Linked DNA regions of Homo sapiens: region 1 is linked to region 2. The links come from fine-mapping of genetic effects on gene expression. A gene starts in region 2. The other region holds a variant in brackets. All regions are shown on one strand. Distances are from middle to middle. Region 1 overlaps JHY (junctional cadherin complex regulator). Region 2 holds the start of JHY (junctional cadherin complex regulator).

The links. PIP is the estimated chance that this variant, and not a neighbour inherited with it, causes the effect. A credible set is the group of variants that fine-mapping cannot tell apart.
Region 1: its variant is the best candidate, but not a certain one, in a credible set for the expression of JHY in tibial nerve (GTEx, PIP 0.66).

What each region holds. Positions count from the first base shown.
Region 1 is chr11:122,927,363-122,943,149 of GRCh38, reverse strand. JHY (junctional cadherin complex regulator) reads right to left here. Exons shown (of 9, transcript NM_024806.4): 5 at 8,075-8,730. Among named protein-coding and RNA genes, the nearest start is that of BSX, 47 kb to the left of the region's middle. The variant G/A (reference allele first, on the strand shown) is at 7,819.
Region 2 is chr11:122,874,654-122,890,440 of GRCh38, reverse strand. It overlaps JHY (junctional cadherin complex regulator), which reads right to left and starts at 7,682. Exons shown (of 9, transcript NM_024806.4): 1 at 7,469-7,682; 2 at 4,248-4,680. The coding sequence starts at 4,591. RefSeq lists a silencer at 7,204-7,563.

The DNA of each region.
Region 1 (15,787 bases), 53 kb before region 2:
TAATCCCAGCAGCTCAAGGGGCTGAGGCAGGAAGATGGCTTGAGCCGAGGAGTTTAAGACCAGCCTGAGCAACATAATGAGACCCTGTCTCCAAATAAATTTTAAAAAGTAGGTGGGTGTGGTGGAGCCTGTCTGTAGTCCCAGCTAGTGGGGAGCCTGAGGTGGGAGCATCACTTGAGCTCAGGAGTTGGAGACTGCAGTGAGCTAGGATCACTCCGTTGCACTCCAGCCTGGGCAACATGGTGAGACCCTGCCTCTAAAAAGAGAAGAAAATACTTAGAACTAAACAATAATAAAAATGCTACATTTTAAAACATGTGGGAAGCAACTAAAACATACTTAGAGGAACATTTATAATTTTAAATTATATTGGAAAAGGAGAAAGCCTTAGAAATAATGAGCTAAGCATTTAAAACAGAAGTTAAGGGCTGGGCACGTTGGCTCATGCCTGTAATCTGAGCACTTTGGGAGGCCAAGGCAGGTGGATCACTCGAGGTCAGGAGTTCAAGACCAGCCTGGCCAACATGGTGAAACTCTGTCTCTACTAAAAATATAAAAATTAGCTGGGCATGGTGGCGTATGCCTGTAATCCCAGCTACTTGGGAGGCTGAGGCACAATAATCGCTTGAACCCGAGAGATGGAGGTTGCAGTGAGCCAAGATCATGCCAATGCACTCCAGCCTGGGTGACAGAGTGAGACTCTGTCTCAATAAATAAATAACAGAAGTTAAGAAGTCAAAAACACTGAAGTAAATTCAAGCAATATCAAAGAAAAGAAGTAAATATATGAGAACAAAGATGGATAAAAGAGAAAACAAAACCAAAACATAGAGGAACAGTTGTTTTTGAAATGACAGATGAAATAGACAACCCTTTTGCAAGGCTGATCAAGAAAAAGAGAGAGAAAGCACAAATAAACTATTGTGGTTTCTTCTGAGTTAGGACAGAATAAATTTCTGCTTTGAAAAAGGAATTTCTGGCCAGGTGCGGTGGCTCACGCCTGTAATCCCAGCACTTTGGGAGGCCGAGGTGGGTGGATCACCAGAGGTCAGGAGTTCGAGACCAGCCTAACCAACATGGCGAAACGCTGTCTCTACTAAAAATATAAAAATTAGCTGGGCATGGTGTCACGTGCCTGTAATCCTAGCTACTTGGGAAGCTGAGACAGGAGAATCACTTGAACCTGGGAGGCAGAGGTTGCAATGAGCCGAAATTGTGCCACCACACTCCAGCCTGGGTGACAGAGCAAGACTCTGTCTAAAAATAAATAAATAAATAAATAAACTAAAACAAACAACAAAAAGGGAATTTCTATTTCTTGTCATGGTCCTTACCAAACAGGAGGCACACACAGTGACCTGCAGTCACACATCCTACAAGCAGCTGGTTACCATGTAATGTTTTACATATTCAAAAAATAAAATAAAATTTAAAATCAATGAGAAGAAAAGAAAATCCTAACACTGAATACAAAGCAAAACAAATGAATTTAACTGTATGTTAAACTGATTACCTCTACCAAGAGAAAAGAATTAATTTATGAAGTAATTTTGAGTCAATGTAGTTTGGTTGTACACCCTTAGAAGAATATAGAGGGAGGAAAAAGAATGGCAAAGAAATCATGAGCTTTACTTAGACTGACTGTTTGGTAGTGGTACTGGCATTGTAATTATAAAACTATTTGTACATATACTGTAGGGAAGGGTAAATGTGTAAACATATTGATGTTTTGGTAAACTAAGGTTTTCACTGTTGGAAAAAGGAGATACAAATATGGAAAAGGAGAAGCATGAGGAAGAACCCAGAGCTGTTGGATTTGAGGTATCTGTGTGACCCCACTAGTATACAGAAATATGTATTGGCATAGGCATAATTATAGAAAGAGGTTCAGGTACAGGTATTTTCTAGCTCTAACTGCTGAGATCTTGAGTCTAGAAGCAATAACATTTCAGTAGCAATGAGAACACATAGCTCTCAAATCTTGGTTTCTAAATTCCATTCCCTACTAAAAAGAATTAGGGTTTTTTGGAGAAACTGATGCTTCCACATGAGTTCAGGGGAAGTCCAAAGGTAAACCTAGAACATATTACTATGCCAGAAAACAAAGAAGTGCTCGAAGACAAAAGATGTTACATCAAAAGGACCCAGGAACTGGAGTGAAGGGGCTCCCACTGCTCAAATCCAAGACAGTGAGAACATATACAGTATAATGATGGTAATAGACTTTAACATGTTTATAGGAAAAGATTTATGAGTCCATAATGATACTAGAGAGAGAGGGAGAGAGAGAGAGAGAGATAAAGAAGGAAGGAAGGAAGGAAGGAAGGAGAAAAAGGAAGAGGAAAAGGTCTTATTTCAACAGCCATGTAATAAATGTATAGGTATTGATAGAATTACAAAATCACCATTTTGCAACCCCAGTGTAATGGATGATTTAGGTAAGCACTGTCAGTGGATGCTAAAACCACTGTACAAAAAGCTGTTGAAAACTAGGATAATTACACTGTCTCGAATATTAATAATTACTTATAAAGGGAAAATGTTCCTTTACAATGGGGAGATCTGGTAGTCGCTACCTTAATCAAAAGGTTTAACTTAGCATCACCAATAATATGATAGCCTGATAGTATGTATCCCCTGGTATAATGTAATAAAAAGTACACCAAATCACCCAAGTAGTATTCTTGCCTGAAATGGTCAACCTAAATATAACTATCCAAAAACAATAAATTTTTTCTAAAAAGGCAATGTTATAGAAAACAATGAAAAGTGAGCATTGGATAATTTGTTCTAGATTTTTTTTTCTTTTTTTGAGACAGAACCTCACTCTGTTGCCCAGGCTGGAGTGCAGTGGCAGGATCTCAGCTCACTGCAACCTCTGCCTCCCAGGCTGAAGAGATTCTCCTGCCTCAGCCTCCCGAGTAGCTGGGACTACAGGAGCCTGCCACCACACCCAGCAAATTTTTGTATTTTTAGTAGAGTGGGAGTTTCACCATGTTGGCCAGGCTGGTCTCGAACTCCTGACCTCAAGTGATCCACCGCCTTGGCCTCCCAAAGTGCTGGGATTACAGGTGTGAGCCACCATGCCCAGTCTGTTCTAGATTTTTTTTTTTTTAATTAAAGGGACAAAAAGTAAATGAAATGTATGAACACTGAATACTGGATCAGGAATTTAAAAAAAAAAAAGCTGTAAAAGGCTTTTTGGAGACAAGTAATACAATTTAAAAATGTACTGATACTACATGATATTGTGTACAATAACGTTAATATTCTTAGCTGTGATAATGGTGTGATTGTTGTATAAGACAATGTCCTTATTCTTAGGGGCTGAATGTTGAAATATTTAGAGATAAAATATTGTGATTCTGAACTTGCTTTCAAATGATTCAGTAAATAGATAGAAAATGTTGCAAAATTTTAGCACTGATGAATCTAGATGAAGGACTACAGGTGTTTATTGTAGATATTTTCCCCCAAGTTTTTACTAGGTGTGAACAATTTCAAAATGAAAAGGTGGTAGAAAAAACGTGGCAGAATAAGCATGCAATTTAACTCTCAAATGCAAATCAAAATTATATATAAAGAGATTTTTAAAAGACATCAACCCACGAAGATAAAGAGAACAAAATGGGGGGAAAAGAGCAAATATTTCGGAAGCAGAGAACAGATGGTTGAATGGTAACTATCTTAGCAGACTCAAAAAAGTGGAATCTAAGTTAGCAGCAGGGAAAGCAGAGAAGCCACAGTTTACACCATAGAATCCTGTAAGGCTCATGAGCTGTAAGTGGGAGTGGCGGTGGTGAAAGTCTATGTGAGAGTTACTTAAAAAAGATTTGGTTGAAAGTCTGTTTAAGAAGCAGTCAGGGTTGGGTGCGGTGGCTCACGCCTGTAATCCCAGCACTTTGGGAGGCCGAGGTGGGTGGATCACGGGGTCAGGAGATCGAGACCATCCTGGCCAACATGGTGAAACCCTGTCTCTACCAAAAATCCAAAAACTAGCCAGGCGTGGTGATGGGCGTCTGTAGTCCCAGCTGCTCAGGAGGCTGAGGCAGGAGAATCGCTTGAACCCGGTAGGCAGAGGTTGCAGTGAGCTGAGATCGTGCCACTGCACTCCAGCCTGGCAACAGAGTGAGACTCCGTCTCCGGAAAAAAAAAAAAAAAAAGAAGAAGCAGGCGGATCTCCAGATCATCTTCTCCATTTTGTGCACCTAGGCAACTGTCCCTTCCCTCTCTCCGCAGCTCGCTGGAGGTTTTCATTCTGAAGAAGCCAACAAGTCTTCTGCCTGTGAAGCACCAAGCACAGATAATAAATCTGACCACCAAGAGAAAAGACCTAAAACCTACAGGAAGGGCTTCCTATCACATGGCACCCAAAGATCATTCTATAGGCACTCAAAGTCAACAAGCACTGTCACTCAGAGCTTCCAATAAGCTTTCTAGTCCCTCATACTTGATCATGAGAAGATGATCAAGAATTGCTAGACATCTGACACAAGCCCTAAGGTGGAAGGCAGCAAAATAGGAGAAGAGAAACAAACATCACTGACAAAGACCTAGAGGAAAGAGAAGCAAAGCAGGGAATTAAAAACACTTAAAAATTCAGTCACAAGGGCCCTTACACCCTATTTTGCCTTGTTGAAAATCTAAGAAGACGTTGAGAAAAAAGGATGTTGTATCCATGAACAAAAACATGAGGCTATAAAACGAGGAGCATTCAGAAACCAATAACAGAAACAACAACAAAAAAATCCTGTCGGAAATTAACAAACATGATAGCAGTAGAAAGGCTGGAAGCTAGGACTGAGAAACCCTCCCAGACAGTAGAACAAAATTAGAAAGAAATGGAGAAAGAAAGAGAAAACAAAATCATAATAACGGTCCTGGAAAAACGCATCTGAATCACAGGAGTTTCTAGAAAGAGCAAACAGAAAATGGTTGAAAGGAACTACCCATAAAGATGACTCAAGAAATTTTCCCAGAACTGAAGGTCATATGTTTTCAGGTTTAAAGGCCCCAGCTCAATCTATGAAAACAGACCTATACAAAGGCGCAATATTATGAAATTTCACTTCAGTAGAGAAAAAGAAAAGATCCTAAAGCTTCCAGAAAACAAAAAACAAAAAACAACAACAAAAAAAACAGATTATATACAAAGGATCAGGAATAAGGTGGCTTCAGATTTCTCAACAGCAACACTGGATGCAAGAAGGCAATTCTGAGGGACAATGATTTTCCATCTAGAATTCTACAATCCTCTGCCAAGCTACCAATCAGGGGCGAGGGCAGAAGAAAGATAATTTCAGCAAGATCTCAAAACATTTACCTCTCAAGCAATGGAGGATGTTCTCTATCAAAATTAGAGACGAAACTAAGAAAGAGAACGGGGATGGAAAAAACGGGAAGGGTGACGAAGGAGAAGAGTGAAGAGGGTCTCCATGAGGGCATGGAGATTCTTAAGGATAATATGAGCACAACAACAGCGGAACGCAGTCAGAAAACAGGTGTGGCACAGGACACTGGCACGCTGAGAACTGCCCATCACCCTGTCCCCTGTCCTTGTACCACATTTTCAATCTGAAAGAAATGCCGGAAGGGGTGCTCAAACAAAATAAGGAAAATGTGAGATACTGAAAAAGAGAATCCTATCAGAAGAAAGGCAAAGGGAATCCTCAGCCAGGACAGCTGTGAAGCAAGTCTCGAAAGAGAAAGAAAGTAAAGGTGTCTACAAAGTCTGGCTCCAAGAAAGAGAGAAGAATTGAGAAATTGCCCGATGGGGTTGTCCTTATGGAAACTTATACTAAAAGGCTACTCATAAGCGTAGGATCAATTAGCTATATGTACAGAGAGAATTAAGCAAAAGAAGCCCAGGAGGTTGAGGCTGCCAAAAAAATTAAAAAAAAAAAAAAAGAAATGAAAAGAGGGACATGATTATAGATATAATAAAGGTGGAATAATATTAAAGTTATTTAAATACTACAAAAAGCTTTATGACAGTACATTTTAAGACAGCATAAAAGGAAAATTTTTCCTAGAAAAATATAATGTATTAAACTGACTAAAATGAAAATGAAAAGACTGCAAAGTCTTATAATGATTATAGTAAATGCATCAGGAGTTTAAAATCTGCTCACAAACAACAACAAAAAGCCAAACAAAACCCACCAATGGCCCAATAGTTTTAGAGGAAAATTCTATCAAACCTTCAAGTAACAGGTAAGGCCAATTGTATATAAAGTGTCCCAGAGGATGCAAAAAGAGGAAATAGTCCTCAACTCATTTTATAAGGCTGGTATTTTCTTGATAATCCACCCAGTCAAGGCCAGTGGCAGATAGGAAAATTATAAGCCAATTTCACTTCATGTATATGAAAATGTTAAATCTTAAACAAAGTGTTAACACATCAAATCAAGCAACTTATTAAAAATGCAGTATGACAAATTGGGTTAACCCTAGGAATAAAAGGGTTATCAGAAAAATCAGTGCATCATCAGAAAAATCTGTTAACATATTTCATCACACTAAAGGATTAATGGAGAAATGTTTCAATTAATGCAGAAAAAGTATTTGATAAAATCAAATACTCGTTTATGATAGAAGTTATTTGCAAAGAGGAATAGGAGGAAATTTCCCATCTATCATCTATCTATCTACCAAAAACTAAATATTATTTTTAATGGTAAAAGTGTCAGAAACAATCTTTCTAAAATCAGGAAAAAAAAAAAAGACAAAGATGCCTGCTATTTATCATTATCTCTTCTAGGAAGCTAACTTTAAATCTTATTAAATCTACATTCCATATCACCAAGTGTGACACTTAAATGTTCTTTGATCAACTCACGAGGGAGTAATTGTCTCCCTACTTTGAAAGTCAAGTTCCTTGAAGGTGCCTCACACACCATACTTCTTTTGTACCTTGTATAGCATTTAGCACTGTAGCATTATATTCAGTATGTTAGGTATGTAGAAAGGACGTTTGATCGAAGAACACCAAGAAATGGTGCCTGAAGTAATTTTTAAAATAACTTTCATTTTCCTGTTTATAGAAGTTATACATCTACATCGTGGGGAACTTGAACTGTTCTGAAAATATAAAGAATAAATTTTTAAAATCCCAATCCCTCTTGCTAGAGATAACCACTATTGACATTTTGGTAAATTTTTCTTCTGTGCATATTTTAACACAGTAGAACTCATACTCCTTAGATGTACTTTTTCTTCTACCAGTGTCATTCAACCCAAGGTGTAATTTTGTACCTTACTATTTTCTTCCTATAGAAGCATTTCCTCATAACCATAATTTTTAGTGGTTCCATGATACTAAATATCATAATTTACCTAAACATTCCCTATTGTTGGATTTTTAGGTCACCTCTATAAATGATGATTTTTTTGTATGTGCATATTTTTCTGTATTTTAGATTATTTTCTCAGGATAGGCCATGATAATGTTGAAGATCATTTGTTTCCTCCAAACATTACTTGCAACCCCCAAACACACTGATGTTTTTTGACTGGGTCCCTCTGTCCTCCTCTCCCTTCAACTTCTAGTTTAACTACAGTGGAAAAATAGCGGAGACAGGGAAGAGGAAAAGAAATCCATCAAAAGTAGACTCTTGGCCGGGTGCGGTGGCTCACACCTGTAATCTCAGCACTTTGGGAGGCCAAGGCGGGTGGATTACTTGAGGTCAGGAGTTCGAGACCAGCCTGGCCAACATGCTGAAACTCTGTCTCTACTAAAAATACAAAAATTAGCCCGGTGTGGTGGTGAACGCTTGTAATCCCTGCTACTTGGGAGGCTGGGCCAGGAGAATTGCTTGA[G/A]CTCGGGAGGCGGAGGTTGCAATGAGCCAAGATGGCACCACTGCACTCCAGCCTGGGCAACAGAGCAAGAATCTGTCTAAAAAAAAAAAAAGTGGACTCTTTGAGGCAGGAATCAGAGCTAAGGAAGTTGTTAGGTGAACTCTTCTTCTCACCTAGCCACCTTATGGATTCCCCTTCCCCTTCTTCCTCTCCCGTCTTTCTGCAGCAGTCTCTCCTTTCTCCTCTAGAAAACCACTTGAGAAAAGGGAATTCTTACCATAACATTTCTAAGTTCCTGTATTTTGTCTCTGTATAAGGCTGTTTGAGTTGTTTCTTATTTTTGGTTGATCCATGAGTATTTATGTGATAAACAAACTGAGAGCCTTTCTGGCTCAGGAGCACGTGTCTCTTAGAAAGTTCATTAAGGTTGTTCAAATCCATGTCAGAAAGGGTGTGTAGCTGCTGATATGAAAATCTTTTCTCTTCTTGGTCTTTGTGTCCTCTTTCTTTATTAACATTCAGCCCAGAGTCACATCCAGTAGAGTTTTTAGATAAGACCTTGTCAAAAGCCTGTTTTGGTGGAGCAAATGTATTGGAGGTTTCTTTGAGATTGTGGCTTCTAAGTGCCCTTGAGGCTTGTACATCATTGTTAGAGGCATGCATAATCACAATCGATTCAGGCTTTGTTGAAGTATCAAGAGGCTTATTTTGGTTTTGTTGCTGCCTGGGAGGGTTATTCTGGTTCCCCTGACTGGCAGTCACCTCTTCCGTTGTGGAAGACTTCAGGCCATTCTGGTGTTTACACTGCTTTCGAATCTTGAGCTTGGCTGGTCTTCTGGAAGGTTGATGGTCATTCACCATGTCAGAAGGTTGCCCTCTTGGTACATTGCTTGATTTTGTACTTTCATATTGAGACCAGTGTTCCTGGTAATTCTAAAGAGATATTTTTGGTTAATGTAAAATTAGAAGACTGGCACTCTTCACAAATTTTATTTTATTATTTATTTATTTATTTATTTATTTATTTATTTATTTATTTGAGACGGAGTCTCACTGTCTCCCAGGCTGGAGTGCAGTGGCACGATCTGGGCTCACTGCAAGCTCCGCCTCCCAGGTTCACACCATTCTCCTGCCTCAGCCCACAAATTTTAAATTAGTGTTTTCCAAATTGGGGGTTGAGACTTCTAGGAAGGTGACCATAGAACTGAAAGCAGATAAAGAAAAAGTAGACGATTTTTTTCCTAATTTCAGGGAATTGGAGTTAATAACTGAGTGATTCCTCCTGGAAATTTAGGATTATAAGCCTAGAAAGAAATAGAAAGCTTAGAATGGGCTTTATATTAAGGACAAGTCTTTGGCTTCAAAGTTTAAGTTTTAAAAGTTAAGTCTTTGACTTAAAAGTGTTGCCAACTTGGGGGATGAGGTGGGGAAGCTTTACTTCGAGAGATACGGAGAAAGTACAAATGCAAATCTACATTACAATATACAAGCTTATTTTAAGTAACATGAATATTTTTAAAAATCTTAACCAGAAAACACTAATAATTTGCTTTACAAACCAAGTACAAATCTAATATTAAATACAATTGAGATGATCAGATCTTTTTACTCATGCTGGTCAGAAGCTAGAAATGACCTCTTCACCAGATGAAACAAATTAGATTTTATTCAGAGGATTATAAAAGAGCCTGTGCTGTGATAGGACATCTGTGAAGCCACAAGGGCTGTTTTGCTTCTGTTCCTTAATATAGCCTGCGCTTAGGCAATCAAACATCTGGGGGAAATATTTCAATTTCACAACAGTCTTTATGCTTTTCAAAGTCTCCTAACAACAAAATGTACTCCTGGTATAATAGATACACTATGTAACTATATTGTGCTATTGCCATTTAGAAATATTTTCCAAGGAATAAAGCACTCATTACTTCGTGGAAAACTAGCTGAGTTAAGAGGCCTTTGCAAAGAATGATTAAATGCTTATTGAAAACAGTAGGATGACCATATGCATCAGTGTGTTATATAACTGCAACATATTTCTTCCTTTCTGAACACATATACTAAAAAATCTCTTTAGCTTTTATCTATAAAACATTAACTGAAAAATGCAACAGTTGGATGAATGATTATTTTAGCTTGCTAGAAGGAATGATCAAATTACTGTGATGAGTTCAGCTTTGATTTCTCTTTTCTGATACATTCTGATACAACCACTAAGACTCATCCTATTCCTGTATAATATTAAGCAGTGTTCTATTTCTAGTGAAATCACATTATAATGATAATGTTGAGATTATTAAATTTAAAACAGTAATACACAATGTTACTTATCATATCATATTTTTAAGAAATAACGACTTCTAATTTGAAATTTAGAAGCTGTTCTTTTGAGAATTTGAGCTTTCTGGGGGATTGGCCAGGCTCTGATTAGCTCCTACTTACTTTAAATTTTTACCTGTGGTGCTCCCAAAAAAGGGAAAACTTCTCTTCTGTATTCCAGGTAAATTCTAGGTATTCCTTCCATGCAGTAAATTGAGCTGCATGGGGAAATGCGGGCAGGAAGGCTCTGCAAATACATAGCTCCAAGAAAATCCTTTCTTGTAATGGATCCAGAAAATAATTGCTATATTACAATATTATAGGTGTGGTTGTGGAATATAGCAGCTCTTTTTATGGCTGGCAGCACTATTCGTGAAGGTCAAAAATGCCCCCCTTGACTGTGACCTAAAAGTATTAATTGATGCTGATAATGTCATTCTTTTCAATATTTTGTTCAGCCTTTAACTCGCTAGAGAAGTAACCAGGATGCTGCCATCTAAATGTACTTTTCCTAGTTTTCTCTCTTAATTTTCACCAAAAAAGAAAATACTTACTTCTCAGAAATTTCTTGGGTACTAGATGTGAAATCCTGGGTTACCACTTGATCTTAATCATGTTATTACCTTTGCTGCTGACAATCCTGTTCACAGGGCGCTCTGACAACAAGGCCAAGGACTCATCATTTTATGAAACTTCAATTGTCTCAAGTGTTAAATCTGCTATTCACATACATATAAGTGCCCAGAGATGGCATTTCAGTCCCCAGAAAGGAAGCCATTTATGGGCTTGATACGATTTTTCTCACCTTCCAAGCAGCCTACTTGAGATCTGTGGTTTACTGAAGATTTATTACCCTACAATTGGGGCATCAGGTGTCACTCTTTAGGTGGCAAGACCTGAGTTCCCTGAAGTTAATATACAAAGCCATTCTCAGACGATTTAATCTCCATCAGCACTGAAATCCTCTATTCCATTCTGCTCTCACTGGGGTTCTTTTGTTACCAACACCCGCAGTCGCTGCATACTCCATGCACTTAGAATAACTGCTTAATGGCAGTAGGTTTTTGCGTCACACACGGAGTGTTAGCATGGGGGAATCCTGATGCCTAATGCTGGGATGATAATTTCTTGGTGGGACTCATCCTTAGTTATTAATTAATGCTCGTTCATACTGTGCCACCCAAGAGAAGTTTGTCCCCGACCCTGTGAAAGCCAGCACCTTGTTGTTTCTCTTTTACGGCTTTCCTTTTCACATTTCATCAGCAGACGGGACAATGCCTGCTCTGATCTCAACCAGAAAGTTCATCTGTTTCAACACAAAAGCCACTCCTGCTCTTAGTTAACCTGACTCAACCGTGGAGTCCTGAGAGTTGTGCCTGGGCTCTGAGATCAGCTGTAAAGTGAAGACATGTCTGTTGTGTTCTGCTTTTCTGCTGTGTTTATGAACAATAAAACATGAGTACTTTAAGCCCGAGATACAAATTCCATCTGATAATATTAAGAGAATCTCAAGCAAAAATATTAATTGGCTCTGATTTTCTCTGTGGGTAAGGAAGAACTCTGTGTTCAGATGAATAGAAGAAGCATAGATCTATTGATAGTGTTGGAGGCAAAACCAAATTAACAGCTTTTTGGAAAGGTTAATCAGGATTTGATTACAAGGGCTTTCATATTAATAAGTAAAAGGTCCTATATATCTTTAATACTATCATTACCTTTTCTTTGCCTGGAAAGCTAAGAGTTATTTTAGAGGGGTAAGAAAGAAAACATCCTATTTATCCTTTTGAAACATTACTTAATTGGGGAACTTTTAATTTTTTTCTACTGGCATGTTTCTTGCCTGGTGCCATGGTTTGAATGTTTGTGTCTTCCCTAAACTCGTACGTTAAATCCTAACCCCCAAGGTAATGCTATTTAAAGGTGGGGTCTTTTCGGGTGACTAGGTCAGCAGGACGGAGCCCTCCTTCTTGGGATTGATGTCCCTATAAAATAGGCTCAAGGAAGCTCATTCCCCCCCTCCATTGTGTGAGGACACAGTGAGAAAGCATCACCAATGAACCAGGAAGCAGATCCTCACCAGACATAGAAACTGCCAGTGTCCTGACCTTGGACTTCCAGCTTCCAAAGCTGTGAAAAAAATAAACCTCTGTTGTTTCTAAGCCACCTGATCTATAGTATTTTGTTATAGCAGCACAAACAGACTAAGATACCTGGAAAAGATCTTCTGCCAGTGGGAATGTGCCCCTCACACTGCCCAGCAAGAGTCCTGAGCCTTAAACATACTGCATTCAGTCTGGGCACACAACCTAAGCAGGATTTGGAAAACCTGTGAAGATTCACAGGCAAGTGCGAAGCGATTCAGGACGCTAAGGCCTATGTAGCAAGGTTAAATGAAGAGAGATGACTTGGCTTCAAGTGATGGATCTGGGCATGGATAAGACTCTTACATAGAATATGATGATGACCATCATTCTCAGTATTTTTAAAGTAAAAATACATAGGCTGAAATGGTCTCAGGCATATCTTCTCTCTTTTCTCGCCCTTTCTCTGGTTTCTCGTTCTTTCTAGCATGTAAATGTATTTAAGTCTCTCCTATGAAAAGAAGGAAAAAAACATTCACTTGAATACATCCTCTGGTTAAATCCTATCTCTTTCTTGGCTGGGCACAGTGGCTCATGCCTGTAATCCCAGCACTTTGGGAGGTAGAGGCGGGTGGATCACTTGAGGTCAGGAGTTGAGACCAGCTTGACAAACATGGTGAAACCCTGTCTCTACTAAAAATACAAAAATTAGCTGGGCGTGCTGGCCTGCACCTGTAATCCCAGCTACTCGGGATGCTGAGGCAGGAGAATCGCTTGCACCTGGGAGGCAGAGGTTGCAGTGAGCCAAAATCACGATACTGTACTCCATCCTGGGTGATAGAGCAAGACCCTTTCTCAAAAAACAAAAGCAAAGAAAAATCTATCTCTTTCTCAGTTCACAGCTGGGCGTCTTGATGGTGTAGACTGCACTGGTCTCTGCTCCCCATCTCTCATGCTGACCTCTGTCCCCTGCCATAGAGCGTTCCTTCTCCCCATCCCGCTGAAATTGCTCTGTTCAGGCCACCAATAAACTTTTAGTCACCAAATCCTGTGGGCACTTTTTTCTTGACCTTTTTATTTTCAAGTTATTTCAAACTTACAGAAAAATTGCTAGTATGGACAACTCTAAAGGATTCTTATCCAGATTGAACAATTTTAAACATTTGGTCACATTTCATCATTTTCTCTGTCACTCCACACATAAACAAACAAATATACATCTATCTACATATATGTAATTATTATTGTTTGTATTTTTGGTATTTAGTCTTTTCAAGTCATGGAGCCTTCCATATACATGAGTTGCATGTGTAATGTCCCTTGCACGGCACCTCACTGCTGGGTACCTGCTTAGATTGCGAACAATCTCTTCTCCAGTCTGAGTCCTGGGATGCGTGAGGCAGACAGCAGCCCTTACCAACTATGTCAACTTTTCCCTCCCTAGACCATACAAATAGCAGCCAGAGCTGTCATGGTTCCTCGTTCCTCCTCCCACTTTCACACCTTTGCCCGGATTTGTCCTTCTAGGGGCAGCTGAGATACTGACTCCTATGGGGGTTATTTCTCCGTCTTCTTAGGGCAGAATTAGTTGCTCTTTTAGTTCCACTGCATTTTGTACCCAGGTCCATATTACTGCATTATAATGATTACATAATGATTCCCACTAAAGTGTTGAACTCCTAGAGGGGAGGTACTGCTTTAAAAAAAAAAAAAAACAAAAAACAACCTTGGCCAGGCGTGGTGGCTCACACCTGTAATCCCAGCACTTTGGGAGGCCAAGGCAGGCAGATCACCTGAGGTCAGGAGTTCGAGGCCAGCCTGACCAACATGAAGAAACCCCATCTCTACTGAAAATACAAAATTAGCGAGGCGTGGTGGCACATGCCTGTAATCCCAGCTACTTGGGAGGCTTGAACCTGGTAGGCAGAGGTTGTGGTAAGCCGAGATTGTGCCATTGCACTCCAGCCTGGGTAACGAGAGTGAAACTCAGCCTTAAAAAGAAAAAATGGGCCAGGCGTGTTGGCTCACGCCTGTAATCCTGGCACTTTGGGAGGCCGAGGCGGGCGGATCACGAGGTCAGGAGATCAAGACCATCCTGGCTAACACGGTGAAACCCCGTCTCTACTAAAAATACAAAAAATTAGCCGGGCGTGGTGGCGGGTGCCTATAGTCCCAGCTACTCAGGAAGCTGAGGCAGGAGAATGGCTTGAACCCGGGAGACGGAGCTTGCAGTGAGCCGAGATTGTGCCACTGCACTCCAGCCTGGGCAACAGAGTGAGACTCGGTCTCAAAAACAACAACAACAAAAAACCAACAACTACAAAAAACAACCTTTCTTCAAGTTTTATTTATTGTTTTAAAGAATTTTTGTTGTTGTTTGTTTGCTTGTTTTTTTTTTTTTTCCCCGTATCTTTTGGGCCAGGCACCTAATCCACAGTGCCTGGAATGCAGTAGATACTCAATAAATATTTGTTGTGTGAAATATTTTGATTTTGCACAAAGATATTTCACATTAGTGAAGGTTATTGTTGTTAGGGTAGGTTTATGAAACTCTGAAAGTCATTTTTCAAGAAAAAATTTTCAAATGAGGTCCATTTTCTCCTGGAGATACACTAAATAATCTTTTTATCTGCATTTTGTATTTTTTAGAGACAGGGTCTTGCTCTATTGCCCAGGCTGGAGTACAGTGGCACCTGTAACATCGAATTCCTGGCCTCTAGCAGTCCTCCCTCCTTGGCCTCCAAAAAAGCAATAGGATTATAGGCATGAGCCACTGTGCCTGGCCCATGATCTTTAAATGTTTCTTTAATCAGTCAGTAAATATTTACTGAGCATCAGCCTTGGGCAAAGCACTGTGGTAGGGGATGTAGAGAAAAATACAATCGGTACCTTAAAAGATCTTGTAGTGTAGTGGGTACAAAAGAAACACAGGCACAGTGGCTCACGCCTGTAATCCTAGCACTTTGGGAGGCCCAGGCGGGCAGATCACCTGAGGTCAGGAGTTCGAGACCAGCCTGGCCAACATGGTGAAACCCCATCTCTACTAAAAATACAAAAATTAGCTGGGCGTGGTGGTGGGTGCCTGTAATCCCAGCTACTCAGGAGGCTGAGACAGGAGAATCGCTTGAACCCAGGAGGCGGAGGTTACAGTGAGCCAAGATCCTACCATTGCACTCCAGCCTAGGCAACAAGAACAAAACTCCGTCTCAAAAAAAAAAAAAAGAAAAAAGAAAAGAAAAGAAAAAGAAACACAGGCAGCAGTTAATGAGACACGGCCCAATATGGCAGGCCCTGAGCCAGTGGCCCAGACTACAGACACAGCAGGAGCTGAGGGCAGAGGAGCAGGGTGGGAGAGGCTGGGAATCTCCATGCAGAGGTGGCCCTTGAGGAGGCACTAAAAAGAAGGCATTGGACTTGGGTAGTTGAAGAGGAAAAAGAAAGGCAGCCTAAAGTGTCTGTGTCCCAGAGTGCTGGGCTGGTGTGTAGCATGCAGTGGGCAGTCCACAAATCCTTTCCACCTAAAGAATGGGAAACATCCCTTAGGCCATTTGTGGTTATTGTCATTTTAGGTCAATAACACTTTTTAGATGTTT
Region 2 (15,787 bases):
TAAATCTCTTAGAACCAGGATAAAAACAGGGTTTGGGGCCATGGAGTCAGACTGCCTGAGTTTTCTGCTCCACCACTCACTAGATGCAATGAATGGGTATAATATAACTTTTAAAGCTTCATTTGCATCCTTCAAAATGGGATCATGATAGTATCTACCACGGTTGCAATAAAGATTAAATGAGATAATACATGTAAAGTGTTTAGCACAGAAATGGGCTCATGATAAGCATTCTATAAATGCTAGCTGTTGTTACAGGAACCCTAATCTTTGGCTTCTCTTGTTCCTTCAATCCTCATATCTAATCTGTCACCAAACCCTGTCAATTCTTTCATTTATATATATATATAATTTCAGTTAAAGTTTCGTTGGAAAAAAAAAAACAAGAAACTGGGGCCGGGAGTGGTGGTTCACGCCTGTAATCCTAGCACTTTGGGAGGCCGAGGTACACAGATTTCCTGAGCTCAGGAGTTCAAGGACAGCCTGGGCAATGTGGTAAGACCCCATCTCTACTAAAAGTAGAAAAAGTTAGCCGAGCATTGTGGCGCACGCTACTCGGGAGGCTGAAGCACGAGAATCATTTGAACCCGGGAGGCGCAGGTTGCAGTGAGCCAAGATCGTGCCACTTCACTCTAGCCTGGGCAACAGAGCAAGACTCTGTCTCCAAAACAAACAAACAAACTGGGAACATCCCAAAGTCCACCCTTGGGTGACTGAATAAATATATAATGGCACCTCCAGATACTAGAATACTATGTACCATGTACACATGTATTATGAACATATAAGTATAATCATCGCTCAGTTATCTGTGAGGGAGTGTTTCCAGGACTCCCTGCTGATACCAAAATCCAGGGATGGGAAAGTCCCTTTTATAAATTGGGGTAATATTTGTATATAGCCCTGCATGTCCTCCTATATATTTTAAATTATCTGTAGATTATTTATAATACCTAATACAATGTAAATACCATGTAAATAGTTGTTATATTGTTCTGGAATAAAGCCAAGAAAAAAAGTCTCTGTGCATGTTTAGTACAGATTCAACCATCCATTTATTCTCCAAATATTTTTGATCTATGTTTGGTTGGATCCACAGATGCGAAACCATGGATACGGAAAGCCAACTCTATCGAAGGATACCCAAGATACACATGGGTATTTTGTTAAATGAAAATAACCAGTTGCCAAAGAGGATGTCTAAATCCATCTCATTTGGTTAAAACCATGTAAAAAGATTCTCGAGCTCACAAGTTATCAGAGAAAAGTAATTTAAATCTATAATAGGACAGGATTTTATAACCCATCAGAGTGGCAAAAGTTAAAAAGACAGTAATTCTGAGGACTGGTAACTTGCAGGCACTTGTGAGTAAAGTTGAAGATGTCCAGTCGCCCATGAACCACAGTTCCACTCCTGGAGATTTATACCCTAAGGAAAGCCTTGCATGCATACCCAAGGAGGCACACGAGGACATGCACAGAGCATTGTCTGAAATAACGAAAACTGGAAAAAAACTAAATATTCATCAATATTCAACCAAGACCATGTCTTAGTTCAAAAGCATAATTGTAAAATCCCAAAAACATAATGTTGACTGAACAAAATGGGCATCATGCATCCATATATAGATATATATTTATTCACTAATTATAGATCACCTATGAAATAAATGAATGGAAGACTGGTGAGAAGGATGCACACTCACGTAAGAGTATGTATTGATTACCTCTAAGGGGGAAGAAAGGGGAATGAGTTTGAGAAGGGGGTACATGGAAACTTTATCTGTAATACACTATGAATTTTAAAAATAGGTCTGAAACAAATATGGCAGTAAGGGTTATACTGTATTTTTCTCTGTAATTTTCTATAGGTTAGAATTTTTGCATGATTAAAAAAAAAAACAGCATCAGTAACACAACAAGGACATCCTCCAAGCACTATAACCTTAGACGAGTTTCTTCATCTCTGTTAGCCTCATTTTCCTTATCTGTAAAATAGGAAAAGCAGCAACTTCCCTACAGGATTGTGATGGAGAATTGAGTGAAACTAAGATAGGCTTTTAAAAAGTGATGTCATTGTTACTGTCATATCCATCCAGCAGTCTCTTTGCCCATTGTGTGTTTAGTCTCTAATTCAAAATGCACTAGCTTGCATAATAATCTTCCTTAAACGCTGCTGCATCTCACTGCCCTCCCCAAGAACCTGTATTCTCTCTGCCTGGCTTTCCCAGCCTAGTCCTATCAAGGTTGTCTGTCTCTCTGAAGCTGTCCTGCAAGCCTCTTGCGCCTCTAGCACCTTGGTGACAACTCTTATCACTTTTACTGTGACATATCACTAAGACACTTATGAGATTGATTCAACTAGATAGCCCCAGTGAAAAAAAGGGGGGGAAGACGAAAGGAAGGAAGAAGAAAGATAAGAAAGAAAGAAAAGACTCAGGACCGGGCTCTACTTCTCGCTCCCACACGAGCCCTTGCAGTGACTGTATCCCAAGGACAAATCATTTGAGTTCTGTAAGACTCAATATCCTCATCTGTGGTAGGATGGTTACACTTCAAGACCTGAAAATGTATCTTCCAATACCATAAGCACATTTTTAAGGCCCCCTTATAATCAGACCCCTACTCAGTCTATTTTTGCTACACTCAAAACAAATCCTCTGCAATCCAGCTGGGCTCCCTAATGTGCCACAAACATGTCACTCCCATTCTCTTCTGTTATCCAGAACTTAGCTTGTTTTCAAGACCCTGTCCAAGTTCTAGGCCTTCCAATAAACTTTCCTTAATATATTTCAGCCTGAATTAAAAAAAAAAAAAATCGGCCGGGCACAGTGGCTCACGCCTGTAATCCCAACACTTTGGGAGTCCAAGGTGGGCGGATCACAAGATCAAGAGATCGAGACCATCCTGGCCAACATGGTGAAACCCCGTCTCTACTAAAAATGCAAAAATTAGCTGGGCGTGGTGGCACATGCCTGTAGTCCCAGCTACTCGGGAGGCTGAGGCAGGAGAATCACTTGAACCCGGGAGGTGGAGGTTGCAGTGAGCTGAGATTGCGCCACTGCACTCCAGCCTGATGACAGAGCGAGACTCCTCCCCCGTCCCACACACAAAAAAAACTAACACGATATAATTTATAAGGAGCCAGTCACTATTCTAAACAATTTATATGTATTTATTTTAGCCTCATAATAACTGGTTAACTATTATTATTATCCCATTTTTACTGATGAAGAAACTGAGGCACAGAAATATAATTGGACTTGGCCAAGGTTATACAGCTAGTAAGTGGCAGAGCCACTATCTGAACCCAAATGGTCTGCTTCAGACACCATGCACTTCACCACCACACTAAAACCTCCTCCTAATCAATAGCTTTTACCTTCTTCTGTACTCTCATATCCTCAGTGCCTCAATTGTAACAGAGTGATATCACACATTATTTCATATTCCCTTACTTTTTTTTGGTAGCTCATAGCACAAGGTTAAATCCCTTAAATTCTGGTTATTAGATTAAATCTTTATATGATCATACAAGCCCTGAGAGGTAGACCTCTACTAGCTTTGAATGGGCCAAGTAAGATTCTACCCCCAATTATTTGTACTTTATTGACATTCATAGCAATCCTGTGAGATAGGCAAGTCAGGTTATTTGACAGACGAGAAAAAGTGAGCCAAAAAAAGAATTAAGTGGGTCAGGCATGGTGGCTTATGCCTGTAATCATAGCACTTTGGGAGGCTGAAGTGGAAGGATTGCTTGAGGCTAGGAGTTCAAGACCAACCTGGCCAACATAATGAGCTCCCATCTCTATTGTAAATATTTAATACTACATAAAATTTTTAAAAAAATAAAAAAAAGAGTTAAGTGATTTATTCCAGATTATACACTAAACAGCAACGCCTGGACCAAATCAAGTCCACCTGACTCCACATCCTTTTCCATACCCGGCTTTCTGGAATTTCTCCCAGGTGAGGTCCTAGTGCGGAGACACTTGGAATATGGACAGGAAGTAAATGGTATGAGAAATGCGAATTGCCCTTATTAATACCCATTGCACTTTTTAATTAAAAAAAATCTGAATATGGAAAAAACATGGTGCCCAGCTATCCTTGGCTGCTTGGAGACCTGTCTCACACACGGCGCTCATTAGGGCAGCTTGCCCTTACTCTAATTTGGAATGACGACAGTAATTATCTAATGATACATTTTAGAGCCCATTATTATCTTACACAAGCCAATTCCTTACCTGTTATTGGCGCCCTGGTCCCAGGTATGGTGGTTTTGCTCGCGAGCCATCTGAGCTGCTTTTCCACTTGCTTCCTCTTCCATCTCGTGCAGGCTTCCCCATCGAGGGCTTTCCTCCTCGTCTAAGCTGTCGGGCTCCATACCGTTGCCCCGGATTCGATCATCAAACTCAGAATGGCACATAATCTCTTGCGTGAGGCTTTCTGAATCAGATTCCAAGGAGTCTTTTGAAATCCGATGTAAGTCTTCTTTCTTCAAAGGTGGGTGTGTGGACTGGACATTTAAGTTGGTATGAAGGACAGGAGATTGAATAGAGAGCTTGGGAATTAGTTTACGTTTACTCATCTTGAAAAATGCAAAAAATTAACAGGGGATACTCGTGTTGATAGGAGCAGCTGGCTGATATTTAAAGTTGTGGTTCACAAAAGCGTTACCTGAAAAAAAATATATTTATGTTACTCTGCGACCACTAAAATCTCAATACTGTCAACGTTAATCAAATATTTAAATGAGTAAGAGAACCTTGTTATATTATCTGCAGGCTTTTGTATGCACCCTTTTGTGTGTATAAGAAAGGTCTATTAGAAAAACAATTGTTTTTCTCTCTGCAGAAACACATCTGATGTAGCGCTCATAAGCAGCCTGAGTAATCGAATGCAGTTTTATTGATGAAATAAATGGCTGCTTGGAAGTGGATTCCTATTTCTAGCTTCCAAGGGCTTGTTACAGACAAGCCTGGACTAAGACAAATGGTTAATTATGGACAGTACTTTGATAGCCTTATTTCAAATGCCCAAATAACTATGGGCAATATAAATATGGTCCGTAGTTATTCATGGATAGAGTAAAACAGGTTCAGGGGCTATGTTTTGGAAAGTAAAGTAAGAAGAAAGAAGAGTGTAGTTTTCCATAGTTGGAACTGTAAATGGGGAAGCTGTTTTGTTCCTAGACCTATATGGGCTGGCAACATCATTTGGAAAAGACTTTCTGATAGCCAGGTTGTGACTAGATAGGAACATATAATTTAGGTGGACATAAATGGAGATCAACCTCATCCGGTATTTTTTAAAACCCATAATAACGATTAAAACTGTTCAACAATCACGCCTGTAATACCAGCACTTTGGGAGGCCAAGGTGGGCAGATCGCTTAAGTCCAGGAGTTCAAGACCACCCCGGGCAACATGGCAAAACCCCATCTCTACAAAAAAAAAAAAAAAATACAAAAAATTAGTGGGCATGGTGGGATGGGCCTGTAGTCCCAGCTACTCGGGAGACTGCGGTGGGAGGAGGGTCACTCGAGCCGGGCAGGCAGAGGCTGCAGTGAGCTGGAGTGCCACTGCACTCCAGCCTGGGTAACAGAACGTGACCCTATCAGAAAAAATAAATAAAACTGTTCAACAAAAGATTTAGTGGTCTTGTGAATTCTGCCACTGAGCGATCCAAAGCAGAGCCTGGAGGTCTACATTACCGAACGGGATGCTATCCTGGGGAAAGTTGAGTGGGTGGGAGATTGGCCTGAATTACAGCTAAGAGTTAGCTGGAGTCCCTTCCAACTCACTTACGAGTGTGATTCAAGTGAACCTGCACTGTCTGTAAGGGTCATTATAAAGAGCCATGGAAAGGGTGCTTTGAGTTCATGTAGGACCGAACGGACATGATGTTTTTGGATTGTGCTTCCTTTCATCTCTACCTAGCATTTCTATTTTGGTCTATTTTCTATCTCACTGCCTTTATACCCATTTTTTTTTTTTCTGTGAGTCAGGTAACAGAAACCTTTACCATTAGAAATTGCTGTAAAATTTGTCTTAATGGCTTGCTCTTGTTCTTTTGGCAAATCCTAACTTTAATTAAATGACACAACCTTATTACTATTCCTAGGATTGCTTATAATGTTGACCTTGTTGCTAATGTTTGCAAGGAGCATCATCAAATCCTTGGAGGAAAGCACCTTAACAAACAACAGGCAAAAGGGAACGTTCATATGTAAATACACACGAAGTGAGTTTTCTATTGAACTCGAAGTCTGCCCTGTTGGTAGACTAACATATTATTCTCTAATATTACAGACTGGTTTGTTGTATTATTTTGTCTCTTATTTTTAAAATACATATTGCATTCTGCCTTATTATTTTAATTGTTGCTTTTTTAGGATGTGCCAAGAAAGCAGCAAATCTATCAAATACTAACACATTTTAAGTAAAAGAGATTGTTTAACACCGGTTTTACTGGAGGAGCTAAGGTCACTGAATTTGAGATCCTGAAGAGCAAGCTTAAGCGTTATAGTGCAACTTAGAATTACTCTTAAAATAATTCAGTCCCTTGAACTTCTCTTCTTAAATGAAATAGGCTAAGCTTTCTTGGAATGAATAAAAAATAAAACAGTAACCACAGAAGATAATTTTGCTGATGTTAGCAGATTCCTGAAGTTTGCTAAAGTATGCAAAGAGCAAAGCCAAACGCCACAAAAGCTGGGTTTTCTGTGGAGGCCTGATCTTACCAAAACATGGGGTGGAAGAAGGAACAGCTGACAGCTTGAATAAGTTAGAAAGTGGGCGTTTAAATTTCATGAATGTGGCTCCCTCCTCCCGTCCAGTGAAAAAAAAAAAAGGTTGTGCCGCTGAAATTTCTGACCAAGAGAGGTGACTAGTCTCCTGAATAAACAAGACAGCGATAGATCCGATGGCACCTAGGGACTAAGAAGCGGCCAGCTCCCCAGGGATCCCTGCAGTGGGTCTAGTCCACTAGCATGGGACAATCGAACTTTCTCCTGGAGGGGAAAAGGAACCCTGCTTGGGCTCACCAAGATGAATCGTAAAGAAAAAGGAACGAACCCTGGTTTGAAACAGGCCGGAAGCTGCCCAGGGGAGGCGTTCGGTTTTCTACCTTTGCTTGTTCCTGAGGAACAAGGCCTGTCACAAGGGGCGTTTGGAGGTCCAGGAAGTGACAAGTCGGCGGGCCTGGTGCCCGGGACCGGTCCTAATTGACCGGGAACAGGGCTGCTCTGGGTGCCCGGGCGCCGAAGCCTCGCATGGCGGCCCCCCAGCCCCTTGTCGCGGCCTCGCCCCCTTGTCGCTCCCCACTCCGTCCCGAAGGCTCCCGCGCCGGCTCCTCCCCAGCTTGCTTGGGTGGTTTCCTGCCGTCCCCATCCCCAGTAAGCCCTTCCCGTTTCCCTCCCCGGGCGCGCCGCCCACCCCAGATCCGGGAGGCCACCGCCCGTCACCTGCCCGGCGCTCCTCCGCGGCCGCGACCCGGACGGGCCCCGCATCCTCCCGCGCCGCCGCCGCCGCCGCCCGGGCCCCCGCCCGCCCCGGCGCTGCCCTGGAGACCGCAGACAACACAGACGCCGGCGCCACATGGGCGGGGCAGGACCCGACCTAGGATCCCGCGTCCCGAACCGCACCCCCGGCCCTGGCACGGAGGCTGCAAACGGCCGTAATAACGACATCGGGGCAGAGCCGGAGGAGCCCGAACGCCCCGGGAGAGGCTGCCTCGCCGCCCGGACTTCCCAGCGCCGGAGGGCAGAGGCCACCCGGGGGAGGAGATCTTTGCCACAAATAAAACTACTAAAATACGCGAGGAACTGCTACAAATCAAGAAGAAAAGGAACCCAATTAAATAATGGGTAAATGGAAAGGTATTTCACAAACACACGAGAAATCTAAATGGCCAATAAATATCTGTTTATTGAAATGATGCTTTAATTCATTAATAATCAGAAGAAGGCCAATTAAAACCACAGCGGATAATACCACACTCACCATAAGTTGAGTCGAAAAGTCCAAAGTTGAAACGTCTGGCAGCGTCAGGTGCTAGGGAGGACGTAGTGCAAAGAACCGTCACCTTCTGCGGGCGGACGTGAGAACCGATGCAACCAACCATTTTGGAAAATGGTTTGACATTAGCCAGGATATGTATGCCTTGGGATCCAGCAATTTCACTTTTAGGTATTTACCCTAAGAAGTGCGTGCTCCTGTGCATGCAAACTGGAAATAACTGAACTATCCATCAAAAGAATGGTTAATTAGATTATGCTATTGCCTATACTGGCATACTACATAGCACTGTAAATGAATGAAATACAACTATGTGTAACAATATGGAGGCATACTAAAAACACAATTTTGAACAACAACAAAAACCCAGAAAAAGTACATACTGTATGATTTTTGTATATAAAAAACAGGCTAAATTACACTCTACAGTGATTGTGGCTCCATACTTAGTGGAGGAAACTATGAAAAAAAGCAAAAAAGCAATTTTATGGGAAACACTACCCACTTAGTGATTCCCATCAAGTTAGGATTGTGGTCGGTTCTGGCAGGTAGGGAGAAGAATGTTTTTGAGACTGTATTTCCTGACCTTAATGATGGTTATATAGATGTTCATCTTGTAAAAATTCATTAAGCTGTACATTTATGTATGGGTAGAATATTTCACTATCAAAAAAGGTTTCAAAAAAGAATAAAGAAAGGAAGCATTAGGAATTATCTTCACATTAAAACAACAAGTAGATTTGAATAACTACCTTCAAAGATTGGTTTGAGGCCAGGTGCAGTGGCTCACCCTGTAATCCCAGCATTTTGGGAAACCGAGCTGGAGGATTGCTTGAGCCCAAGAGTTCAAGACCAGCCTGGGGAAAATGGCAAAACCTTGTCTCTACGAAAATTTTTAACAATTAGTTGAGCGTAGTGGCGCGTGCCTATAGTCCGAGCTACTTGGAAGGCTGAGGTGGGAGGATCACCTGAGCCCAGGAGGTTGAGGCTGAAGTCAGCCAATATTGTGCCACTGCACTCCAGCCTGGGTGAGAGTGAGACCTTGTCAAAAAAAAAAAAAAAAAAAAAAGAGAATTCTTCGGCCAGGCACAGTGGCTCATGCCTGTAATCCCAGCACTTTCGGAGGCCTAGGCGAGTGGATCACCTGAGGTCAGGAGTTCAAGACCAGCCTGGCCAACATGGCAAAACCCCGTCTCTACTAAAAATACAAAAATCAGCTGGGCGTGGTGGTGCACGCCTGTAGTCCCAGCTACATGGGAGGCTGAGGCAGGAGAACTGCTTGAACCGGGGAGGCAGAGGTTGCAGTGAGCTGAGATGTGCCACTGCAATCCAGCCTGGGTGACAGAGCGAGACTCCATCTCAAAAAAATAAAATAAAATAAAAAAAGAATGCTTCAATACCAGTTGCCTCATTAATGATAGGAAACACAGGAAATTGGAAAATGTCTTTACTACCCAGCTTTAGCACTTTTTATTCTGTTTTTTATTTGAGTTAGTTTTTTTTTTTTTTTTTTTTTTTTTACTTTTTTGGCAGCAGGGACCTTGTCTTATGAGTACACAGTAGGACCTCAATGTCTGTAGAAGAAATAAAAGCAACGTAGCTGAAACCATTAGTGTTATTCTGCCCAGTATATTATACAAGGTATTATTATAGCAACTGCAAACATGCAAGCAAATTTCAAGCAAAAGGATTTAGTCCTAATAGTGGCTTCCAGAATATGTTATAGAATCAATGCTGAGTCATTCACACTTGTCTACTTTTGATGCTGTGGTTCTTTAGACTCTTCCAGTGTTTTCTGCACTATCCAGAAGAGATTTTAACTGGCTTTTCTGAAAATTAGTGGTCCCTACGTGATTCAGGAGTCTGTCAATCCAGCAGCTACTTGCAGAGACTAGTCACACATAGAGCGTGGGACACTCTGGGCTTGATCTTCCTCCTTCTCCCCTTGTAATGGCTGTCCTGAGTATCTGGAGTGACTAAAGGGTGGAATAATCAACACGAGTGGTAGTCAGGGTCAGTGAGAAGACAGAAACCATGCCAGTTAGTATAATGGAAATAATTTAATATGAAGATTTATTAACTGAAAAGTTGAAAAGGGAACACAAGTGTCATAGAGGTAGTAAGTACAGGAAGCAGCTTCCACCTCTGTGGCTGGGGAATCACAGGAAAGAATTATTCACACTTAGAAGTATTAACACTGAAATTATTAACACTCAGAGCTGGGACCCAGGCCTCTCAGGAGGGTGAAATCCCAAGCTAGTGGGTGCTGGTGTCTTTGAAAAGGAATCATGAAGCTGGTTCTGAGAGTGCTGGGAAAACTGGAATCAGCTACTGCTGCTGAAACCAACTGAGCTGCTGGAGTGAAGAGACGTTGTCAAGGTGACCTCGAGAGGAAAAGGAAGGAGCAGTCCCTTTTCCAGTCTCCAGGCTTGGGGTCTCCCTCTACTGTCCCCTCCTGGCAGAGTAATACAAGGAGCCGGCTGGCAAAGAAAAATGAGGTTTGTAGGGGTTGCCCCAGCATCACGACCAGAGTATATGAGTGAAGCTGAGAGACAATGGTTTAATAAGCAGCACACTAATGCTCTGCTTTTCAGAATTCTTAAGGATTACAGAGTGCATGCAAACAAAATAAAACCATAAAGTGCATTGTTTTCATCTGCTGTTATGGTAATAACATTGATAATTTACATATGAATAGCACTTCACAGGGTCTGCAAAGTGCTTTTGCATATATTATCTTTTAGAATTCAGCTGTCAACCTGACCCTGAACTAACCAAAATACGCAGAATAGGAAAAACAAGTCAAAAAGCGCTTAAATACATGGGTTAGTAATACTGAACTGAGTTTACTCCTTTTCCACCCCATGCCACCCATTCATGCAACTCCCTTCTTTCTGTTTCCCTCTCCTACACATCACTCATGCTCTGTTCGTGAGGTCCTTCCTCTGCTCCATTTCCTTTTTGGTCTTACCCCTCCTGAGTCCACCAGACCTATGTCTAGCTCAGCAGCGTCTCCTCTAGCAGGAATTTTGTGGCAGTTCCCCCACATTGTCTGATGCTTCTTGGACCAGGGTGCTTCTCAAGCTGGAGCAGTTTTATCCTTCACGGAGAGTTGACAACATCTGGAGGCATTTTTTTGTTGTTATGACTTAAGGGAGTACTACTGGCGTCTAATGGACAGAGGCCAGAGATGCTGCTAAACATCCTAAAATGCACAGGACAGTCCCCCCACCCCCCTGCCAAAATTATGTGGTCCAAAATGTCAATAATGCCGAGGTTGACAAACTCTGTGCTAGGCTAATGGCCCTTGGTCTGTGGTCTCAAGGCACCCAACTGCATGCCTCTAGCTTTATACATATGCTTGTACAACACTGCATTGAAATTACATGTTTATATTTATGTCACCTCCTTACTAAACTATGAGCTCCCAGAGAACCAGAGAACAAGGACAAACGTAGTGAATGGCACCTAATAAATCCTCAGTAAATGTTGAAAAAAAGCCACAATATCCTTAGACTTTAGCACATGATTGGGGAGTAGATAAGTAGTCAGTCCCTTTAATAGAACTGGTGAGAGTGGCCAGTCAAACCTTGTAACAAGGATATACTCATATTTGGCATATAACTAGGTTGATCAGATAATTTATTAAAATCCAGGATAGCCAGGTGTGGTGGTACATGCCCTATAGGTCCAGCTACTCAGGAGGCTGAGACAGGAGGATCATTTGAGCCCGAGATTTCAAGGCTGCAGTGAGCTATGATTGCATCACTGCACTGCGGTGTGGGCAACAGAGTGAGATCCCACCACTAAAAAAAAGAAAAAGAAAGAAAAAGCCAACTAGGATACATTCAAGAATTTTTTTTAAGGATGCTATTTATTAATTACACTGGGACAATAGGTATACACTGAAATTGTCCTGGGTAGCCAGGCAGTGTAGTCATTCTACATATAACTGTAATATGTTTAATTGTCTGGTTTCTTCACACGTAGGGTAAATCAGAAAGGGTCAAGGAGGGCACTCTCAGGGCAGAAAGAAGGGGCAGTACCAGCAAGAGAAGTGACCAAAATATCACAAAAGCAAGAGATGTTCAAACAAACAAAGCAACCTGGGTTCATTTGGTGTAAGGAACAAACAGCCTTATTCCTGAATATCCTGTGTGAGAATCACACTATTATGGCAAGTGCCAAGATTAATTTTCATAATGATTAACTTCTTGAAACTCATATAGGGTAAGTCAGCTTCATAAATATTGACTAGAAAGGTAAAAGTCATGTAACTTATTTTACAAAGACTTTTGTCCAAAATATTAAAACATTTAACATCTCAAAGAGATAAACCTCAACTATCCAAAAGAAAAGTATTTACTTAGAAAGAGTCAGCCCTGAGAATTTTAGAGGACTGAAATGGTATAAATATATGTTTAAACAGAAAATGAAACTCAACAGACAGAAATACGAGTAACTTTGACACCCTTCTAGAAGAACGAGCCACGTGCTGGGGAAGCCCAGAGGAAGAGAATTCAGCCTGGCCGGGATCAACTTTGGGAAATAGATGATCTGGAAGGATGGCTCTTAGGAATGCAAATGAACAGATTATTATTATTATTATTATTATTTTTGAGACAGAGTCTTGCTCTGTTGCCCAGGCTGGAGTGCAGTGGCGCAATCTCAGCTCACTGCAAGCTCTGCCTCCCGGGTTCATGCCATTCTCCTGCCTCAGCCTCCCGAGTAGCTGGGACTACAGGCGCCCGCCACCACGCCTGGCTAACTTTTTGTATTTTTTTTAGTAGAGACGGGGTTTCACTGTGTTAGCCAGGTTGGTCTTGATCTCCTGACCTCGTGATCCGCCTGCCTTGGCCTCCCAAAGTGCTGGGATTACAGGCATAAGCCACCATGCCTGGCCTGAACAGATGATTAATGACAGGCTTTTTTCTCCTTTTTTGTGTCCTTGGTTTTCTTTCTTAAAAATAATTTTGAAACATTTCATCATGAAAATTTGAAACCATATTCAACAGTAGAGAGAAAAGTATAATGAATGGGCACATTGTTCTCACCCATCTTTAACAAAGATCAGTATGTGGCCAACCTTGTTTCCATACATACTGTGCTCCTCCCAGACTAAATTATTTAGAAGCAAATGTCAGCTATCACATGGTTTAATCTGTAAGTACTTAAGATGTGTCCCCAAGAGATCATTTGTAAATAACCATGACACCACGATCACATCTAAAACAAAATTAGTAATAACTTCTTAATATCGTCTAATCCTCAGTGTTCAGACTTCCCAGACTGTCTCCTACGTGTCTTTATAATTGGTTGGTTTAAATCAGGACCCAAACAAGTTCTACAAAGTGATTTTTAAAAGCTAACAGCTTGGCTGGGTGCAGTGGCTCACACCTGTAACCCCAGCACTTTGGGAGGCCAAGGTGGGCAGATCACTTGAGTCCAGGAGTTCGGGACCAGCCTGGCCAACATGGTGAAACCCTGTCTCTCCTAAAAATACAAAAATTAGCTGGGCATGGTGGCGCGTGCCTGTAATCGTAGCTATTTGGGAGGCTGAGACAGGAGAATCTCCTGAACCCTGGGAGGAGGTGGTTGCAGTGAGCCGAGACTGTGCCACTGCACTCCAGCCTGGGTGACAGAGTGAGTAAAACTCAGTCTCAAAATAAAGTAACAGCTTTATTGAGGTATAATTCACATACCTCACAATTCATCCTCTTAAAATGCACAATTGAGTAATTTTTAAAATATTCAGAGTGGCACAATCATCACGACCAGCTAATTCCAGACTGTCTCCCCAAAGGAAGCCCCATATCCATTAGCAGTCACCCCTCATTTCCCACTTCCCTCAGCCCTTGCCAGCCACTTATCTCTTTTCTGTCTCTTTGGATTGGTGTATTCTGAACATTTCATATAAATGGCTTCATACAATATGTGTTTTGTGAGTGTGTGTCTGGCTTTTCTCACTTAGCATAATGTTTTCAAAGTTCATGTTACAGCATGTATCAGTACTCCATTTCTTTTTATTACCAAATAATATTTCACTTTTTTTTTCTGTTTTGAGATGGAGTTTTGCTCTTGTTGCCCAGGGTGGAATGCAATGGTGTGATCTAGGCTCACCACAACCTCCGCCTCCTGGGTTCAACTGATTCTCCTGCCTCAGCCTCCCGAGTAGCTGGGATTACAGGCATGTGCCACCACGCCCGGCTAATTTTGTATTTCATATTTTTAGTAGAGACGGGGTTTCTCCATGTTGGTCTGGCTGGTCTCCAACTCCTGACCTCAGCTGATCCGCCCACCTTGGCCTCCCAAAGTGCTGGGATTATAGGCATGAGCCACTGCGCCCAGCCTCACTTTATGAATATACCACAACTTATTTACCCATTCATCATTTGATGGCCATTTGGGTTGTTTTCACCTTTGACCATTATAAATAATATTGCTATTAGTATTCCTGTACAAGGTTTTTTTTTTTTTTTGAGACAGGGTCTCATTGTCAGCTTGAGTGCAGTGGCACTATTATTTACCCATTCGTCATTTGATGGTAATTTGGGCTGTTTTCACTATTGACTATTATAAATAATATTGCTATTAATATTCCTGTAAAAGGTTTTTTTGTTTTGTTTTGTTTTTTGTTTTTTTTTTTTCGAGACAGGGTCTCATTGTCAGCTTGAAGGCAGTGGCACCATCGTGGCTCACTGCAATCTTGACCTCTGGGGCTCAAGTGATCCTCCCACCTCAGCCTCCCAAGTAACTGGGACAATAGGCGAGGGCCACCATGCCCCACTAATTCCTTCTTGTAATCTTTTGTAGAGACGGGGTTTTGCCACATTGCCCAGGCTGGTCTCAAACTCCTGAGCTCAAGCGATCTGCCCACTTTGGCCTCCCAAAGTGCTGGGATTACAGGCATGAACCACCGCACCTGGCCAATATTACTGTACAAGTTTTTGTGTGGAGATATATATATATATATATATATTTTTTTTTTTTTTTTCAGACAGAGTCTCGCTCTATTGCCCAGGCTGGAGTGCAGTGGCACGATCTTGGCTCACTGCAACCTCCGGCTCCCGGGTTCAAGCAATTCTCCTGCCTCAGCCTCCTGAGTAGCTGGGCTTGCAGGCTCACACTACCACACCCAACTAATTTTTGTATTTTTAGTAGAGATGGAGTTTCACTATGAGCCACCACGCCCCGCCTGTGTGGACATATTTTTCAATTCTCTTGGGTATATTCTTTCTAGGAGTAGAACTGCTGAAGCATATGGTAACCCTATGTGTAACTTTTTGAGTAACGCAAGGCTGTTTTCCAATGTGGCTGAGCTATTTTACATTCTCACCAGTCATGTCTGAGGGCTCTCATTTCTCTATAACCTTTCCAAAATTTGTTATTTTCTCTTTTTTATTATAGCCATTTTTATAGGTGTGAAGCGGCATCATATTCCAGTTTCGATTTGCGTTTCCCATCTTTTCTTGTGCTCATGGCTGTTTTTATTACATAGTTATTTTAATGATATATTTCAAATTTCAGTTTAAAAACTAGTGTCTGAGCAATCTCTAAAGCTGATCAGTACATTTTTAAAGTATTGTAAAAACTCATGAGTTTTAATGTATTTAACATGTTTCAATCACTACTCTTTATTTATTTATTCATTTATTTTTATTTTATTTATTTATTTTTTTTTGAGACAGGGTCTCGCTCTGTCACCAGGCTGGAGTGCAGTGGCGCGATCTCAGCTCACTGCAACCTCCCTCTTCCGGGTTCAAGCG